Linked DNA regions of Homo sapiens: region 2 is linked to region 1. A link means that fine-mapping ties the variant in region 1 to the expression of a gene that starts in the linked region. Tissue or cell type: monocytes after interferon gamma. Region 1 holds a variant in brackets; the other region holds the start of a gene. All regions are shown on one strand. Distances are between the middles of the regions.

Region 1 (2,764 bases):
AAAGTCTTTCGAACTCCAAGCATAAATTGTCAAAGAAAAGTTCATGAATTAAGTCATCAAATACTAGCGTTGTAGCCATAATATAATAGCCTCCACTACACTCTTCCATCACAAAAACATTGTCCCATTTTCACCACTGGAAATCAATCTATGCTGGATTTGCCTCTGAAAATAGAAGGGACCATGGTGCTGCTAAGGGCACTGAGAGAGCAGATCAAAGTCATATACAGCAGCGCAGCAAATAGGGCAGCAGCTCACTGTGAGTCGAGGGCACAGACACTGAAGTAGTGAAGTAGTGAAGTCATCGGGGGTGTGCTCTTGTCTGCAGCGCTCCCTCTCTGGTGTTCTCAGACCCCTGGTGGCTCTGACCACCCTTGCGATGCCTGGAGCCCTTTGATGTGTCTCCCCAGCCAAGCTGTCACCTCTGACCATGCCCCAAGCTTCCAAATTAGTCCTCCCATATCCCTATCAAAGCTCCAATTTCCTCATTGACCCCTCCCCATAGATGTTAGAAAAGTGATATAGAACGCGTACATGATGATGCTTTGAAAACTGCACAGCTCTATATAAATGGCCTTTGTTATCGTAACCAACATGTTAATCCTCAGTGTGGTTTATATGCATATTAAAAGAGGCTGCTTGCGGTGATACCTTGACCTGAGGAATAAATCTCTAGTGGTAGAATGGTAAATGGGAGGAACGTTTTGGGAAACGGAGGTTTCCCAGCCAGCCAGCCAGCCAATTAGCTATAAATCACAAGGTATAGGTGTCATCTATTCTGCAACTTTGTTAAACATACAAGGCTTCTGAATTTCATTGGTTTGTAGTTAGACGTTGAACTTAGCATCTTGAGTGTTAAATTGCTTATTATTGGGTGGATACTATCCACATGGCTTAAAAAATGTCTATCACCTCAGTAAGTTTTCCACTATATTTATCAAAAATGTATTATTTTATTGGAGCATTGGTTGTCCAAGGGTGTCCCTTCTACCTTGGCCCTTTGTTTAACTCACCAGGCACCATGACCTAACTCTTCATGAAAAGAAGGCACAAACAGCAGTAGCCTCCTGGGTCCCAGATTGTCTCATCACTTGTGTCATCTTTCGCTCTGTGGTCTCAGATTCTCGGCTCCACATCCTGACTTCAGTTATGTTAGTTATGCTACTGTCTCTTCTGTTTGAAGATCCACCCACACGTATCTCCTGGCTTTTTGAGCTTTGGAATTTCACAAGATTCTAAACTCCATTCCTTCTCTCAGTTTTGGTACCCCATTTAGTTTCTGATGAGAAGCTCCTTTAAATCCACTCCTTTAAATTCAGTCTTACCTTGGCCTGCCACAGTGGCTCACACCTGTAATCCCAGCACTTTGGCAGGCCAAGGCGGATGGATCACTTGAGGTCAGGAGTCT[G/A]AGACCAGCCTGGCCAATGTGGTGAAACCCTGTCTCTATTAAAAACACACAAAAGGCCAGGAGAGGTGGCTCATGCCTGTAATCCCAGCACTTTGGGAGGCTGAGGCAGGTGGATCACCTGAGGTCAGGAGTTCAAGACCAGCCTGGCCAACATGGCGAAACCCTGTCTCTACTAAAAATACAAAAATTAGCCAAGCATGATGGCACGTGCTTGTAATCCCAGGTACCAAGGGGCTGAGGCAGGAGGATCACTTGAACCTGGGAGGTGGAGGTTGCAGTGAGCCAAGATTGTGCCACTGCACTCCAGCCTAGGCAACAGAGCGAGACTCTGTCTCAAACACACACACACACACACACACACACAACTAGATGGGTGTGGTGGCGCATGCCTGTAATCCCAGCTACTTGGGAGGCTGAGGCAGGAGAATCACTTGATCCTGGGAGGCAGAGGTTGCAGTGAGCCGATATCGTGCTGCTGCATTCCAGTCTGGGTGACAGAGCAATGCTTTGTCTCAAAAAAAAAAAAAAAAAAAAAAAGGAAAAAAAGAAACAAAATCCTACCTTTAACACTATCGATGGTTACATGAGATAATAATTTGTTATGTAATGGCCTACTTAACCGCATTTTACTGGGACAACCTGAGAAAATGATTCTTTTATTTTGTAACATTATAAACACTATTTAACCAAACTTATATGGTGCCAAAAGCATGACATATGATTGCATGTGTTAAACAGAAGGTATTTTCATCAGCTGTTATTTAAGGCCTCACATTTAACTTCGGGAGACACTCTGTCATTACCGTTGAAGCTTGCTGTGCAAGTAGCAGTGGAAATAATGCCCCTTTTTTTTTTTGGAAAAAATAAGATGCTTTTTGACACTTCAAATATCAAGATAAATTCAGCCAATTTAGACTTGGCCCATCTTTATACAACATTTTTAAAAGAGGAGGGCACTGTTATTGGTATTGTACTTTATGTGTGCGTGGTTGGAGGCAGTTCATTTAAGGGATAAACATCAAGGCTAAATCTGTGGTTTTATAAATGTAAACAAACTGGTTTGATTTTAGCTATGACCAAACAGATATGCTCGGAAGAAATCTTTGTTCCATCCCGATCCATGTAACTTCCAATTTCCAAGTGGTAGACACGATAGATTAGCACTCAGCACTCAGCATCAGTCCAAGTTCTTTCTAAATAGTAGCGTTCTTATACAGCAGAGGCCAGGAAGCAGAAATGACAGCTCCTAGAGTCACTTGAAGCTAAGTTTGTGATTTCCTAGCATTGCTGTAACAAATTACCACAAATTAGGTGGCTTAAAACAATAGAAATGGCCCAGCACAGTGGCTCACGCCT
Region 2 (2,764 bases), 730 kb before region 1:
CTGGAAAATGGACCCACGGAGCCGCAAGAATGTACTTTTTTTTTTTATCCTTGACAACTTGTGTCCTAAAGAAAGTGTATTGAAGATAATTGAAATGATTACAATTCATTGCTGCCTGACTTTGAATATGAACAGTCACATAATGACATCCCCGCCACACAACAACAGTTTAATTTCCATTATCCGACTTCGGGATCCTAGCGCCAGCCGCCGGGGCAACGTGGCGCTAATGCAGAAATCTTGGCTCCTGCCTGCATTATTCATTTCGGGGACGTGGGGATGGGATAGGAGTGGAGAGTGGGTTTCTTCCCCTCCCCCGAACTTATTCTGAAAATCCCGGGGACCAATGGACACCGAGGAACCGAAAGCCGAGAGAATAGCTGTCAAGGGGCCACTTTGACCGACGGGGCTGCGGTCGACGGCGCTCCCCGGCTGTCTTTTTGTCCCAGGGGTTCCCAGGCCCGCAGGGCTAGGATCCCCCAGCTCCCACCCTAGTCAGTCCCAGTCAGGGAGGACCTAGGCCAGGGCCTCCTCCCAAGGCTGTCATCTGGCGGGGCAAACGCTCTTCTCTCATTCCTTCGTCTCCCTTCCAGCCCTCGCATCCTTTCCTTCTTTCTGCTTCAGAGCTCTCAGGCTCGCGTGCAGGGCGGGATGGGCCCGGATCGGGGGCCCCTTCGCAGATTTGAAAGTTGCCTCGGCCTTGATCTTCTCCCAGCCTCCCTGCTGGGGACTCACCCCCACATCCCGCTACCCCCCGGGGAAAAGCGAAGAAAGCCAGAGTCTCTTTGCACGGCGGGGACGCTGGCGCTCACCTCTGGGCGCGGCCTCGGTGGAGCCTCAGGGCCAGGGCGGGGTGTGGCGGGGTGTGGCCCGGTGGGGTGAGGGAGGGACCCGGGGTGCAAGCCAGGCCAAGGCCTCCTCAGTGCGCAGGCGCCGTTCGGGCCCGCCGCCCCCTCCCAAGGCGTGGGGTCCCGGGGACAGACCCCGAGCCCCTCTCTGCGCAACTACCGCCTCTAAAAAAAAGACCATCTGGTAATTGTCTTTCTTTAGATCTTCCCTTAATTATGCTTTTAATTAAAGATGGTTCAAGGCACCGGACCACATGAAGGGCAGTAATTACAAATTACATTACAAACCCGACAGACGTAGCAGGATCTGCTGGGAAAAAGGTACCGGAATAAAAATTTGACTAAAGTTTGGGATAAATTAATCGGTGGCTTGAAGAACAGTAGCACATTTCTGATTATGTAGGCTCCAGCCAGGATTTAAGTTTTGTGTCATGATTGTTTTCATATTTCTTTGACATCTATTGATTTGGAGGCAGCTGCAAGCCTTTGTCACAGGAGAGAAGAGCAGTCACAATATATTAGCTTGATGGCATAACTCGAACCGGAGAAGCGAGGGGAGCCTGAGTGACTGGGGCGCACATGACCCCCCTCCTGGGGCCTTTGGGCTCAACCCTTACTTTTAACTTGTTCTAACAGGAATAATGGAGTAGTACTACTAATGCATGGTCAGAAGGGGCTTTTCTGTCTAGAACGCAGGCGGCGGGAGTTGCACCGCCACAGCCCGGGAGACCAAAGAGTCTCCACTCCCCGCTCCCGGCGCCTCCTCGCCGACCGGAGCCCCGAGCCCAGTGAGCCCAGCCGGTCCCACGTCGAGAGGCGCTGGGTTGGGAGAAGTTCTGCTGGTCGTGGGCTCGGCCCCCAGGCGCCAGGCCGAGTGCCCACCTCGGCTTCTTTAGGGGGCCTACAGCGGGCAGCCGAGCGGCTGGCGGACCCGGAGCTTGGGAGGCGACCGCCAGGCTGGTGCCCGGCCTGACCCGGCGTTCGCGGCCGCCCGCTCGCCCGCCGCGGGCCGGGAGCGTACAGGAGTGTGACGCAGATTGTGAAAACAGAAGGGAGGGAGTTGGGTCATTTCCTTCGCTAATCATCGCCCCCTCCTGCTCCTCCTCCCCACCCCCATCCCATCCTCGCCGCCACCCAGCCTCGAACTCTCTTCCTTGCCAGAGTCTGCCTCACTTTGAGCCAGTGGCTGCACTTTATGGAGAAAATATATGTGCCCATCACTCACCCATCTATTTGCAGCGTCCATGGAGCGCCTCGGGGAACACGCATGGACAATTAAACACACCCACTTACGGCGGGATGATGAGGCTTTCTGTTAACCACATGTGTTCAGAAATGGATACAGCCCTAATTTTGACACGGAATGCAGCTAATGCACCTTGCTATAGATGTACGTCCGTTGGAAAAGTGTGTGATGGGCACCTGATCTACACCAAGAGAACAGGGCTGTCTGCAGAAGACCCAGCGGCCTGACACCTTTTCTTGTTGCCGGGGAAGGAAAGTTTTTCTTTTGATTTGTCCTCTCACGATTTTTCCCTTTTCCTTTGCATTACAGTTTCAGAGAGGAATGTAAATATTTTGACTAGACCTCTGCAGGGGCCTTTTAAACACCAGGCACAATCATCTGTGGAATACTGTAGTTCATACTTTCAAAACTTGGGTGTTAAAGAGTCTGTCTTGCTGAGGAAACCCATAGAACTAGTGGCGACCTTTCAACTCCCTATTTGTGTGATGAAATGAAGTATGCCCTAGTGATTGTCGAATTTTAAGGACTTGTTCTGTCACTGCTACTTTCCGATCGTTTGCAGGGAAGAAAAATCAATCAAACAGACCTTTGATGGGGTTGTGGCAAGGTCACATTTCACTGTGCTCCAGGCTTACCTCTTCTTAACGCCCCTCCCTGCTGTGGAGCGTGT

Alleles and levels. Positions count from the first base shown, and alleles are read on the strand shown. Sizes are in standard deviations (SD) of each study's normalised expression.
In carriers of allele G in region 1, the expression in monocytes after interferon gamma of the gene that starts at base 1,166 in region 2 tends to be higher than with A alone (large effect, 1.0 SD a copy in Fairfax 2014).

Evidence for each region. PIP is the estimated chance that this variant, and not a neighbour inherited with it, causes the effect.
Region 2: PAUPAR starts here. The variant in region 1 is the best candidate, but not a certain one, in a credible set for the expression of PAUPAR in monocytes after interferon gamma (Fairfax 2014, PIP 0.67).

Annotation. Positions count from the first base shown.
Region 1 is chr11:32,555,744-32,558,507 of GRCh38, forward strand. No RefSeq gene overlaps it. Among named protein-coding and RNA genes, the nearest start is that of EIF3M, 27 kb to the right of the region's middle. The variant G/A (reference allele first, on the strand shown) is at 1,409.
Region 2 is chr11:31,825,402-31,828,165 of GRCh38, forward strand. PAUPAR (PAX6 upstream antisense RNA) reads left to right here and starts at 1,166. Exons shown (of 1, transcript NR_117094.1): 1 at 1,166-2,764. The region is part of intron 1 of PAX6-AS1 (PAX6 antisense RNA 1); the gene reads left to right. RefSeq lists an enhancer at 415-1,839.